Linked DNA regions of Homo sapiens. The protein of the gene in region 3 interacts with the protein of the main gene of each other region in a biochemical or structural test. Each region holds a gene or a part of one and is shown on either strand. Other genes may lie near its edges.

The links. The genes of interacting proteins can lie anywhere in the genome.
Region 1: the proteins of CASK (region 3) and LNX2 interact in a test that uses a peptide from one of them, tested with the Homo sapiens proteins (one large-scale study listed by IntAct).
Region 2: the proteins of CASK (region 3) and USH1C interact in a test that uses a peptide from one of them, tested with the Homo sapiens proteins (one large-scale study listed by IntAct).
Region 4: the proteins of CASK (region 3) and F11R form a complex in vitro, tested with the Homo sapiens proteins (2 studies listed by BioGRID and IntAct, with this or other methods).

Annotation. Positions count from the first base shown.
Region 1 is NC_000013.11:27,547,530-27,551,029, forward strand, and holds part of LNX2 (ligand of Numb protein X 2), read right to left. Parts: intron 2,963-3,500; coding exon 2,804-2,962; intron 942-2,803; coding exon 806-941; 3' UTR 1-805.
Region 2 is NC_000011.10:17,493,400-17,496,408, forward strand, and holds the end of USH1C (harmonin), read right to left. Parts: intron 2,279-3,009; coding exon 2,170-2,278; coding exon of another isoform or gene 1,954-2,169; exon of another isoform or gene 1,014-1,953; intron 978-1,013; coding exon 933-977; 3' UTR 501-932; downstream 1-500. UniProt on the Homo sapiens protein: Anchoring/scaffolding protein that is a part of the functional network formed by USH1C, USH1G, CDH23 and MYO7A that mediates mechanotransduction in cochlear hair cells. Required for normal development and maintenance of cochlear hair cell bundles.
Region 3 is NC_000023.11:41,549,555-41,553,054, forward strand, and holds part of CASK (peripheral plasma membrane protein CASK), read right to left. Parts: intron 1-3,500. UniProt on the Homo sapiens protein: Multidomain scaffolding Mg(2+)-independent protein kinase that catalyzes the phosphotransfer from ATP to proteins such as NRXN1, and plays a role in synaptic transmembrane protein anchoring and ion channel trafficking.
Region 4 is NC_000001.11:161,014,653-161,018,152, forward strand, and holds part of F11R (junctional adhesion molecule A isoform 1 precursor), read right to left. Parts: intron 1-3,500. UniProt on the Homo sapiens protein: Seems to play a role in epithelial tight junction formation. Appears early in primordial forms of cell junctions and recruits PARD3.

The DNA.
Region 1 (3,500 bases), on a different chromosome or scaffold from region 3:
ACAGTATGAAGTTTTGAAATGTTGGCACCAATAAAAAATGGGAACGGCCGGGTGCGGCAGCTCACACCTGTAATCCCAGCACTTTGGGAGGCTGAGGCGGGCAGATCACAAGGTCAGGAGATCGAGACCATCCTGGCTAACACGGTGAAACCCCGTCTCTACTAAAAGTACAAAAAATTAGCTGGGCATGGTGGCACACGCCTGTAGTCCCAGCTACTCGGGAGGCTGAGGTGGGAGAATGGCGTGAACCCAGGAGGCGGAGCTTGCAGTGAGCTGAGATTGTGCCACTGCACTCCAGCCTGGGTGAGAGTGAGACTGTGGTTCAAAAAAAAATGGGGAACAGTTATCACCAAAATTTAAAGTATATTCATTCATGGTATTGGTTATGACAGTGGCAGTACACGCTGTTGTTACTGGCTTTGCTGACATCAGGCCTGAGGGATACAGAACTCGTTCTATGATTCAGTTACTGAAAACAAAGACCCACCAGAAGGTCTTTACTCCATCTGGGGCACAGTTTGGGTGAGCTTTGCTCATTACCATAGGTAACATTTTAACAACTAAGTCTGAATTCTGAAAATATAAACTCACAAAGGTTAGTGGAAGACTGTTTCCAAGCTAAAAGAAATGTAACTAACTTAGGAAACCATTTAAATAAACATAAACGGACAATCTTAGTGGGTTTTGGCCCTGTGTATACCAGCAGTGTCAGCAGCTCCTAAACCACAAACACAATGAAACCAAAGGGTTTTCTTTCAAAAATCTAAAAAAGGAAGATGCAAGATTTGAAACCAATTTCCAAAATCTATACAAGGCTGCCAGGCCAACAAATAACGGTCAGAGTGACTTTGTTCCTCTGCTCCTTCAACATGGGAACTAGTGCAGAGTGGCTCATGCCCACGGTTGACAGCCCATTTACGGCCACAATCATGTCACCACACCTGGACAAAGAGAGACAGATACAGAATGTTACTATTTTCATGGTATTAAAAATATCCCAATTGAGATTTATGTAGCATGAAAAATGCGGTTTCACTTACCACTGAACTGTCAATGGTTAGGGTGTATAATCTACTTTGTCTGGGACAGCCCTTAAGCCTATGCTGGCTTTCCCTTGCCAATCAAGGAAACCCCTGTGCCGATGACTCCATAACCAGTAGGTGAATGTCAAGGACAAGCAGAGTAATTTTCACACTAATTTAAGCAAAATATAGAGTAAATATGCTCTCTCTTTAAAAAAATACCAAGTCATGCATTTGAAGGGGGTTATTATTTTGACTGCTATTTTTCTATTCATTCTTAGAGCTCATACATCTGAGGGCTGAATTAAATTGGAAATAAGACCCATACTTCCTCTTCTTTCAGCTGTTGACGCTCACTGTACTCTAAGCAGAATTATTATGGATGGATGATGAATTGGAGGACCTTTCCAGCCTTATAATTACCATAATTATCCTTATGGTTTTTGGTCTTCTATTTATACCATAAATATACTATTTTATTGTTAACTACCTCAATTTCTTTTTGGAAGTAGGAGGAATACAAATTATAATTAACAGAGGCCCAGACTGGTTAAGTAACTTAGCTAAGAGAGTGATTAATTCATTTTTCCCTACTCTGTCCTCCTAAAATGATTTTTTTTCATCTTTATCAATATAGGCTGACCTGGAGCATACCACTCCCAATCACCTTTCCATACATTATTTAGATGTCACTTACTCCTTGCAAACAGTGTACATTCTCCATCTGCATAGCATTCTATATAGAATGTCAACATTTACTTTTTAAGAACTGGTTCTTCCTTCGTAAACCAGGTATTAAGAATTTACAATCAACCACCTCCTCTCTGCTGGTGATGATGTCTTGCCATGACACCTTCTCTTTTCTTCTCCCAGTGCCCGGGCTTTGATAAGACGCTGTACACTGAGCGAGGACTTTTGCTCAGTGGTAGAGGCTGGCAGAGGGGTTAAAGTCCAGGGATCTAGAGCCAGATAGTCCTGGGTTTGAATGCCAGCCAACCACTTTCAGCTATTTCATTGTGGGCAAGTTTCTTAACCTTTCCAAGCCTCAGTTATCTTGTTTGTTTTAAAACAGGGATAATAAAGAAACTTACCTCATAGGATTGTTAAAAAGATTACATAATGCATGCACAGCACTTAGCACCGCGCCAGGCATCCTGTAAGCTATTGTACATTCATTCATCAAATATTTATGGAGATCTTACTTTATGCAAGGTATTGTTATGACTGCTAGGGATATAACAATAAATGCAACAAGATCCCTCCCTTATGGAGCTTGCATAAATACGATCTCAGGTAGAGATGAGTGCTATGGAGAAAAATGAAGCAGAGTCATCTAATGACAGGACTGGACCTGAGTAGGCTGTGTGGGAAACTTACTCAGCGCTCAATGTCACATCACAACGTGATGAATGAAATATGTCCAATGAAATAACTCAGGTTCAGTTTCTGTCATCAGATTAATGAAACATAGCTATAAGTGACAAGACAGTAAAGGTAACATTTCAGTCTAGATCGGGATTGGCAAATTTTTTCCGTAAGGGGTCAGATGGTAAATATTTTAGGCTTCAAGACCCATACAGTCTCTGTCATGATGACATCAACTCCGCTGGTGTAGTGTGGGAGCCAGAGAGTACATAAACCAGTAAGTGTAGCTGCACTGCAATGAAACTTTATTTTCAAAAAGATAATGGGCTGGATTTAGTGCTGACCCCTGACCCCTGGTCTAGATCATGTCCAATGTCATCAACATGAATCACATCATTAATTAGAACAAGACTCACTTTAATCTTCCATCATAATAAGCAGGAGTTCCCAAGACAATAGTTTTAATGAAAAAAGGCTGATTGGTGTGGTTCTCTTCATATCCACCAACGATACTAAAGCCCCAACTTCCCAAGTAACTTCTTCGTAAAACTATATCGTGGCAGCTATGAAGTGTGCTATAAACAAACAGAAAAATAAAGAAAAAATTAACATGGAGGCTTTTATAGCCGCTTATTTTTGTTATAACCCCATACCATGTTATATTTACCACTCTTGGAAAAAAGAAAAAGGGCTATTAATAAATAGATTATTTTGACAATCCATCTTCTAGCAGAGACACAGTCCTAGGTAGACTCAAATTTCTCCAACTTTTTTCAGTCTTCCCAAGTGAAGACACACACACACACATACACACACACACACAAGTAGAGAACCTGGTTACAAATTACACCTCAGTAACCTGTACAAAAAGGTCATGTACCTATATCAGCTCACTGCATTGTCAACAAAGTCCTCAATTCTACTAATCACTTTTATCTACAAGAGGAATTACAATGTGGGATGAAAGAGGTCTAGTACTGCCAAGCCCAGCATGCAAATGAAAGAAGAAAAAGATTAGGAACGCAGCTTCCGAAAAGAAGGCAGATAATTATCTCTCTTTTCTAAAGGTCCTATAGGCTTTTAGTCTACATGAGGAGTTATTTGTTATTTTCT
Region 2 (3,009 bases), on a different chromosome or scaffold from region 3:
ACATTCCCCCTGCTGGGCCCCCGGAGTTATGCCTTCCTGCCTCAAGCCCTTGCATTTCCCATGAGCTTCTGTGGGATGTGCTTCCACGGAGGGAGTGGACCCTGCCATCTTCCTCCCTCACATGCTGTCGTGGTGACCTCAGGAGAAGCATTGGTGGCTGTGTCGTTCTTGAAAGAAGCTGGGCACCCCATATCATGAGGTGACCCTTCGGGGCTCCTGCCTTCAGCTCTGCTTTCTGGAATTGAGCAAAATCCCTGCCACACAGACTTCATCTCCTACCATCTCTGCTGAGAAGACATTGAAGCCCAGCCCAGCCCATCTCCTGCTTTCTCAACCTCTGCTCCAAGCCAGCCCTGGCCATTTGATCACACCCTTCATGTCAGACCCAGATCACAGCACTGGGATCTGTCTATCACCCTTGAATAGGGGCCACAAACCTTATGGTTTTTTGATTTGCAGCCTTGAATCTGCTGCCCAAATCCACACTCACTCCTATAAGCTGGAAAATAAATCTATTTTATTAATGAGCTCAGAGTAAGGTTTGGAGTGACAATCCTGGCAGCAATTAGAGCAGAGGGCAGAGGAGAGGGATGGAGAGAGAGAGACTCCAGTGGGGTCTTATTAGGGTTCAAGGAAGGAGTCCCCCAGAGCTGGGAGAGACCAAATTCACTGGGCCAGAGGAAAGGAATGAGAGTCTGGATCCTTGAGATCTTCTCCCAAATGGCTGGCTGCTCCCTTTCCTCCACGTTGGCCTTCAGAAGAGTGGCCCGAGCTGTTCCTTATCTGGCCCTGGTTCAGGGCCAAAGGGAGTTTGAGATTCCTGGGTGATAGATTCAGGTCCCAAGGATGCCATCTGGTGTGTGTAGTGTGGCCTCTCTCAAGGCTGATCCGAGGCTTTGTGTTCACGAGGTGGGGCCGGAGCTCACTGTTTCCTAACGGTGAATTTGGTTTCCCCTTTTGGACTTCAGAAGAAGGTCCTGCAGGGAAGTGGAAACAGCCCAGGTGGATACAGGCTTTGTGGGTGCACACTCAGCCCAGCCAGAGCAAGGCCCCACAAGGGGGAGTACCCACTCTGGCAGCACAAGGCCCTGCCACCCTTTGGAGACCCCTCTGGGTGCAGGCCCCAAGTGGCTACACACCAGCCACAGCCACAGCACACAGGAGGCCAGGGAGAAAGCGGGAGGGACACCTGGGATGGGGGAAGGAGGAGACTGGGAGGAACAGGGGCAAGAGTCCTTTGCAAAAGGCAAGTAACAGAAAACATAGGGCCATGCAGGCCACCCCAGAAGCCATGGTCTACCCGGCCAAGTGTCTTGGGAGCATGAGGCCCTAATGTTTTGGGAAAGTTGTAACAGAAAAGTCAAGTCCAGGCTTGGGTCTGCCCCAGATGCTGCCATCTGTGGCTTCAGGCCACACCAAACACCAGTTTCACAGCCACCTGCCAGCTCTGTCCACGGGCACATCCCTATCACAGGGTGAGAAACACATCCTACAGCTGGGTTCCACGGTATATCCCACAGATAGAGCCCAGAGCCAAGGAAGGGAGAAGGCAGAGAAGACCGTTTGGTCTAAGCACGGCTCAGGCCATGACAGGGCACAACAGGACATGAGCAACTCTAATCCACCAACCCTGGTTCTTTGGACCAGCCTTCAAAACCTCTTAATAGCCCTGGTTCTGGCCAAGTGTGGGGGCCATGGTGGAGCAAGAGCTCCCAGGAGGTTGGCATTCACAGGAAGGGGAATTTTCACATTCTGTTGAGGACATCTCTTGGGGGCAATTCCAGCCAGGCTTCCTGTGGGCTCCTTCAGCCCCACATGCCTGGTTCGAGGCATTGTCTGTGTCCCTCAGAGAATGTTGCCCAGGGCTTCATCCTGCTCATTTGGGTGCTGCTTGGGACCCAAAGCAGGTCCCAGGGCCGTGATGAGTCAGGACACCTGGGTCCCAAGCAAGTACTACAGACTGGGCTTTGCACCACTTCCCTGAGGGGAGGGCTTTGAGTCTGAGGAATTCCACTGTGGCCAACAGCAGGCCCCAGGCAGCACTTCAGGGATGGCGCCTTGTGTACCCTCCAGACGCCAGTCCAAAGAACCTGCTGACAGCGTGGGCAGCAGATGGCCACTGCAAGCAGCAGGGACACACAGGGCCCTGTGGCCCGCCTGCCTATTCACCGTGGGCTCCAGCTGCAGGAGGAACCCGTGTCTGTGCACGGCAGCACGGTCTTCAAGGAGCTTTCGGACCGGTTGGGGGCTTTCAGCTACGGAGGAGGGAAGAGAAGCTCTATATATACAGAGCAGAGCAAGAAACACAAAACAGGCTTGGTTACTCCCAGGCAGAGCTCCATGGGGCTTCTCCTTTCACTGGGCTCCTGCCTCGGGTTCTGCCTAGCCCCTGGGTTCCAGAATTAGGAGCTGCGAGACCCTGGTTTCTCCAAGACATGTGTAGAGCTCAGATTCTGCTGGGCACGGGGAGCAAGCAGGCCCAGCCACGACAGGGAGGCAGGGCATGGTCAGTGAGTGGGTGAGTGGTGGGTGGGTGAGGGCTGGGGAGGTGATGGGATGAGGTGAGGATGGAGGTGAGACACCACACAGAGGCAGAGAAACAGAGAAAGGCAGACAAAGAGGTAAGAATGGATGCAGAATGACAAGGACAGAGGAACAGGGACTCAGAGACAGGGATGAAGAGAAACAGGAAGAAAGAATAGGAGACAGTGAGAGAGAAAGGGGACCGGGATGAAGGGGAAGGAGGGGGGCAGATAAGATGTTGACAGGAAGGAAGGAAAGGGTGAAAGAAAGACAGAGAGGGAGGAGGAGAGAAGACAGAGAGACCCACAGGACACAAGAGACAGACACACAGGGAATCACAGAGAGAGACAGTCTAGGCCAAAGCTCCCTGGAGATCCCACAGCGTGGGGACAAAAGCCTGTGGTCCCGGCTGCCTAGAGGCACAGTATGAGTGAATGCAGTTAGACATCAGGAAGACCTTCCAGAGAGTGAAGGATGGACACAGAC
Region 3 (3,500 bases):
CTTAGCCAGGTGTGGTAGCTCACACAGGTAATCCCAACACTTTAGGAGGTTGAGGCGGGCAGATCACCTGAGGTCAGGAGTTCGAGACCAGCCTGGCCAACATAGTGAGATCTCATCTCTATCGAAAATTTAAAAATTAGTTGGGCGTGGTGGCGGGCGCCTGTAATCCCAGCTACTTGGGAGGCTGAGATAGGGGGATTGCTTGAATCCAGGAGTTCCAGGCTGCAAGGAGCCAAGATTGCACCACGGCACTCCAGCCTGGGAGACAGAGAGGGACCTTGACTTTAGAAGAATAAAAATAAAAAATAAAAAATAAAAATGGCTGGGTGCTGCGGTGGCTCACACCTGTAATCCTAGCACTTTGGGAGGCTGAGGCAGGCAGATCACTTGAGGTCAGGAGCTTGAGACCAGCCTGGCCAACCTGGTGAAACCCTGTCTCTACTAAAAACACAAAAAATTAGCCAGGCGTGGTGGCAGGCGCCTGTAATCCCAGCTACTCGGGAGGCTGAGGCAGGAGGATCACTTGAACCGGGGAGGCAGAGGTTGCAGTGAGCTGAGATTGCGCCACTGCACTCCAGCCTGGGTGACAGGGCGAGACTCCGTCTCCAAAAAAAGAAAAACATATTCATTACCTCCAGAATTTCCTCATGCCCCTCTGTAATTCCTCCCTCCCTCCACCCCCATCTTGCATTTTCCAGAAGTTTATGTAAATGGAATCATATAGCGTGTTCTCTTTTTTGCCTGGCTTCTTTCACTCAGCATAATGATCTTGTGTTTCATCCATACTGCTGCATATATCAATAGTTTGATCCTTTTTATTGCTGAGTGGCATTCCATTGTATGGCTATATCACAATTTATTGATCTATTTACCCACTGATGAAACTTCAAAAAAATGTTAGCCATTCTAATAGGTGTGACCACTGAGATTCTAATTTTGTTACTGCATGTTTCCCCCTGGATGTTCCTCTGGTTCTTTTTAAAATCTGCTATGTCATTAACATTTTTTTTCTGCTCTCTGAAGATATTTTACAAGCTTATTATTGATTTTTAAAAACCTGGGCTAGGCGTGGTAGCTCACACTTGTAATCCCAGCACTTTGGGAGGCTAAGGTGGAAGGATCACTTGAGCCTAGGAGTTGGAGATCAGCCTGGGCAACATAGTGAGACCTCATCTCTACAAAAAAAAAAAAAAGAAAAAGAAAAAAATTAGCTGGGTGTGGTGGTGCACGCCTGTTGTCCCAGCTACTGGGAAGGCTGAGGTGGGTGGATTGCTTGGGTCCAGGAGGTCGAGGCTGCAGTGAGCCATGATCATGCCATTGCACTCCAGCCTGGGCGAGAGCACAATACCTTGTCTCAAAAACAAACGAACCAACTTCGTAAGCTTATTTTTAAAATCTTTGTCTCTTAATTCCAATATATGCAGTAGGTTTGGGTTTGTTTCTACTATCTGTCATTTCTGTTGGGTCTTACTTGTTTCCTTGTGTGCCTGATAATTTTGACTTGCTGGCTACTGCCCTGGAAAAAGTTTATGTCGGGCGGATAGGATGAAGTTAGTGGGGGTTAGGATAAAAGTGTTTGCCTTCAGAGACTTTCTGTTTATACCATACATCTGAAACTATTAGTAAAGAAAGGGGAAACTTCAAATCAAGTACATGGCTTCAGCTCCCCTGGCTGCCCCAGGCTGTGTGTACCTGGGTGCAAATCCATTCAAGGTGGACTGGTGGCCACAATTTGGAAGTTTGTTCCCAATTTCCTCATCTTTTGCTTTGCTCAGTGACAAGGCAGCTTTCTCTATAGTCCTCCGGTGTTGAAGGGAAATAAGGGTATGCTTATCTGTTTCCTTTTAGCCTGGGGGGACTGCCTCTTGCACTCCTAACAATGAGGAGGGTCTTCTAACAGATTCCCCAACTTGTACTGGCCTTAGATCTTAACCTTGGTTCTCTGGCACAGAAGTGTTCAGTAATGACAAATGCCCTGTTTGCAAAATGGGCCACTTGGTAACTCTGATATTCCACTTATCATTCTTATTAAAGGCTTTCACATAAAAATTGGTCACTGAGGCCTGGTGTGGTGGCTCACACCTGTAATCCCAGCACTTTGGGAGGCCAAAGTGGGTGGATCACGAGGTCAGGAGTTCACGACCAGCCTGGCCAACATGGTGAAACCCTGTCTCTACTAAAAATATGTGGTGGCGGGTGCCTGTAATCCCAGCTACTCAGGAGGCTGAGGCAGGAGAATTGTTTGAACCCAGGAGGTAGAGGTTGCAGTGACCTGAGATCATGCCATTGCACTGCAGCCTGGGCCACAGGGCGAGACTCCGTCTCAAAAAAAAAAAAAAAAAAAAAAAAAATTGGTCACTGAGCTCCCCAGTACCTTTTTTTATTTCCCGGACACAGAGTCTCACTCTGTCGTCCAGGCTAGAGTGCAGTGGCGCGATCACGGCTCACTGCAACTTCCACTTCTCGGGCTCAAGCAATTCTCCTGCCTCAGCCTCCCAAGTAGCTGGGATTATAGGTGCCTGCCATCACACCTGGCTAATTTTTTTTTTTTTTTTTATTTCAAGTAGAGACAGGGTTTTACCATGTTGGTCAGGCTAGCTTCGAACTCCTGACCTCAAGTGATCTGCCCACCTCGGCGTCCCAGAGTGCTAGGATTACAGGTGTGAGCCACCATGCCTGGCCCCTGATACCTTTTCAGCTATTCAGTGCTTTCAAGGTCATTTGAAAAACATATTTTCTGCGGCACTTTTCATTTTTTTTCATCAGGAGGATTTATCCAAATAATCTCATCCACCATTACAGGAAATAGGAAGCAAATCTGCTTTTTGCACTGCCATCACTCAGGATTCCTCCAGAGGACTCAGAGTTCTAGAAATTGGTGAAACATTTATATAGATGATCTGACTAGGCAGAAGAGGTCTGGAATCTACACAATTATTTTCAATAAATGCCCATAATATATGGTAACATTAAAGAAGACATTCTGTAAAATGTAAATATCAGTAAGAATATAATGGCATCATCACGGCAACGACTTAAAGATTGCTTTCCTCCTGCTTATGCTTGAACTGTTTCTCGAAGATCAGACTGAAAGACAATGCCAGATGGAAGGCTGCTGCTTCTCCATTTGGGCCCACGTTTCCTTATGTATAAAATGATGGCATCTGAAGTCCTCATCAGCTCCAACATTCTAAATTTAATACTATTTTTTGGGGAAACATGGGATAGCTGAAAGAGGCGATCAAGCAAAAGAGATTAACTGAGAAATCTCTTAACTAGTGAGAAAAATAGATAAAAGCAGGTAGAAATTTCTATGGACTCAATGTCTTTGGTCTCTTTTAGCTGGGTTCAAGTATTTTAGGAGGAACTGGCAGGATGCTTAATGGCTGTTATTTTTTGCCACATGAAACAAAACTCAGACATTATCTCTTTTGTGCTAGAAATAATCTGGTATATTGCCCAAGTACCAACAAAGGTAAAACCATCAATATTTTCCAAAA
Region 4 (3,500 bases), on a different chromosome or scaffold from region 3:
AGTGAGGCCAGGCACGGTGGCTCATGCCTGTAATCCCAGCACTTTGGGAGGCCAAGGCAGGCGGATCACTTGAAGTCAGGAATTCAAGACCAGCTTGGCCAACATGGTGAAACCCTATCTCTACTAAAAATACAAAAATTAGCCGGGCAGCTCACACCTGTAATCCCAGCACTTTGGGAGGCCAATGGGGGCAGATCACAAGGCCAGGAGATCAAGACCATCCTGGCTAACATGGTGAAATCCCATCTCTACTAAAAATACAAAAAAAAAAAAAAATTAGCAGGGAATGGTGGCGGGTGCCTGTAGTCCCAGCTACTTGGGAGGCTGAGGCAGGAGAATGGCGTGAACCCGGGAGGCAGAGCTTGCAGTGAGCCGAGATCACGCCACTGCACTCCAGCCTGGGTAACAGAGCAAGACTCCATCTCAAAAAAAAAAAATTAAATTAAAAAAATATGTACAAAAGGCTGGGCACAGTGGCTCATGCCTGTAATCCCAGCATTTTGGGAGGCCGAGGCAGGCAGATCACGAGGTCAGCAGATCGAGACCATCCTGGCTAACACGGTGAAACCCCGTCTCTACTAAAAAAAATACAAAAAATCAGCCGGAGTGGTGGCGGGCCCCTGTAGTCCCAGCTACTCGGGAGGCTGAGGCAGGAGAATGGCGTGAACCCGCGAGGCGGAGCTTGCAGTGAGCCGAGATTGCTCCAGTGCACTCCAGCCTGGGTGACAGAGCCAGACTCCATCTCAAAAAAAAAAATATATATATATATATATATACACACACACAAAAATTAGCCAAGAATGGTGGTGCACGCTTGTGTCCCAGCTACTCGGGAGGCTGAGGCAGGAGAATCACTTGAACCTGGGAGGCAGAGTCTGCAGTGAGACAAGATCACGCCACTGGACTCCTCCCTGGGCAACACAGCAAGACTTTGTCTCAAAAAAAAAAAAAAAGGCTGCAGTGAGCTATGATCATGCCATTGTACTCCAGCCTGGGCAACAGAGTGAGACCCTGTTTCAAAAACAACAACAACAACAACAAAACTCCATGATATATATATATAAGCAAGATGTAGAATATATGTAGTATGCCTCTTTTTGTGTCAGAAAGGGGAGAAAAAACAAGTATTATTTATATATACTTGTATCTGTAAAATGAAACACTGAAGAGACATTAGAAACTATTGGGGTTTGGGGTGAACAGGAGCAACATGGGAATGAGATACCCCACCCCTTTGATATCATTTTAATTATAAAACCATGTCAATTAACCTATTCTAATTAAATTTTTTTAAAAAAAATCACAGTAGCTCTATCTTGAATCGGAACTGGGCTGGAGACTCCACAAGACATGATCACAAAGGAACTGAAGAGCAACATGGTGAGGTAAAAGTGGTCTGGAGTGGCCAGGTGCAGGGGTTCACGCCTGTAATCCCAGCACTTTGGAAAGCCTAGGCAAGAGGATTACTTGAAGTCAGGAGTTCGAGACCAGCCTGGCCAACATGGTGAAAACCCGTCTCTACTAAAAATACAAAAAATTAGGGGCCGGGCGCGGTGGCTCACGCCTGTAATCCCAGCACTTTTGGAGGCCGTGGCGGGCAGATCATGAGGTCAGGAGATCAAGACCATCCTGGCTAACACAGTGAAACCTCGTCTCAACTAAAAATAGAAAAAATTAGCCAGGCATGGTGGCGGGCGCCTGTAGTCCCAGCTACTCAGGAGGCTGAGGCAGGAGAATGGCATGAACCCGGGAGGTGGAGTTTGCAGTGAGCCGAGATCGTGCCACTGTACTCCAGCCTGGCGACAGAGAGAGACTCTGTCTCAAAAACAAATAAATAAATAAATAATACAAAAAATTAGCCGGGCGTGGTGGCGCGTGCCTGTAGTCCCAGCTGCTGGGGAGGCTAAGGCAGGAGAATCGCTTGAAGCCGGGAGGTGGAGGTTGCAGTGAGCCAAGATCATGCTACTGCATTCCAGCCTGGGTAACAGAATGAGACTCCGTCTCAAAAAAAAAAAAAGTGATCTGGAGCCAGAAGGCAAAGACTAAAGGACACTGAAATTCCACTGCCACTCGTTTCCTAGTTCCAGGTAGAACTAGGAAGTGCCAGTCACCAGTTTCTAGTTTGGAGGGAACAATTCACTCCTGGGAGTAGAGGGAGAGGAAAGGAGGAGTGACTCACCAGTGTGGGGAAAAGCAAGAGAGATCAGATTGTTACTGTGTCTGTGTAGAAAGAAGTAGACATAGGAGACTCCATTTTGTTCTGTACTAAGAAAAATTCTTCTGCCTTGGGATGCTGTTAATCTATGGCCTTACCCCCAACCCCTTGCTCTCTGAAACATGTGCTGTGTCAAACTCAGGGTTAAATGGATTAAGGGTTGTGCAAGATGTGCTTTGTTAAACAAATGCTTGAAGGCAGCATGCTCCTTAAGAGTCATCACCACTCCCTAATCTCAAGTACCCAGGGACAAAAACACTGCGGAAGGCCGCAGGGACCTCTGCCTAGGAAAGCCAGGTATTGTCCAAGGTTTCTCCCCATGTGATAGTCTGAAATATGGCCTCGTGGGAAGGGAAAGACCTGACTGTCCCCCAGCCCAACACCTGTAAAGGGTCTGTGCTGAGGAGGATTAGTATAAGAGGAAGGCATGCCTCTTGCAGTTGAGACAAGAGAAAGGCATCTGTCTCCTGCCCGTCCCTGGGCAATGGAATGTCTCGGTATAAAACCAAGACATTGTACGTTCCATCTACTGAGATAGGGAAAAACCGCCTTAAGGCTGGAGGTGGGACATGCGGGCAGCAATATTGCTTTGTAAAGCATTGAGATGTTTATGTGTATGCATATCTAAAAGCACAGCACTTGATTCTTTACCTTGTCTATGATGCAAAGACCTTTGTTCACGTGTTTGTCTACTGACCCTCTCCCCACAATTGTCTTGTGACCCTGACACATCCCCCTCTCAGAGAAACACCCACGAATGATCAATAAATACTAAGGGAACTCAGAGGCTGGCGGGATCCTCCATGTGCTGAACGCTGGTTCCCCGGGTCTCCTTATTTCTTTCTCTATAGTTTGTCTCTGTGTCTTTTTCTTTTCCAAGTCTCGTTCCACCTTACGAGAAACACCCACAGGTGTGGAGGGGCAACCCACACCTTCACACCAGTCTACGGTTTTGAGGTATGCCTGCCCCTGAAAGGGCAAAGCTAGAAGGGCTTGAGTCAGAAACATCAATAGTAAACACTGGGACTCAGAGAATGACCCAGAAGCAGGGCAGCAGTTCTGCCCTGCCCACGCGGAACTCTTCAGTGATGATACCACACTCAAGGAAGGGCAGGGGAGCAAATGCCAGCATTCCAACCCAGGTTTCCCTCTCTCCCCTGTGGTTACACTGTAAGTTGACCTATCCACACTCACCTCTACTGTGTCTCTCCCTACCTGGTAGACAGCTGAACCTTTTCTAAGGGACAGGTTCCCTAGGGAAAGGGAGGCTAGTACTCTGGGTCAT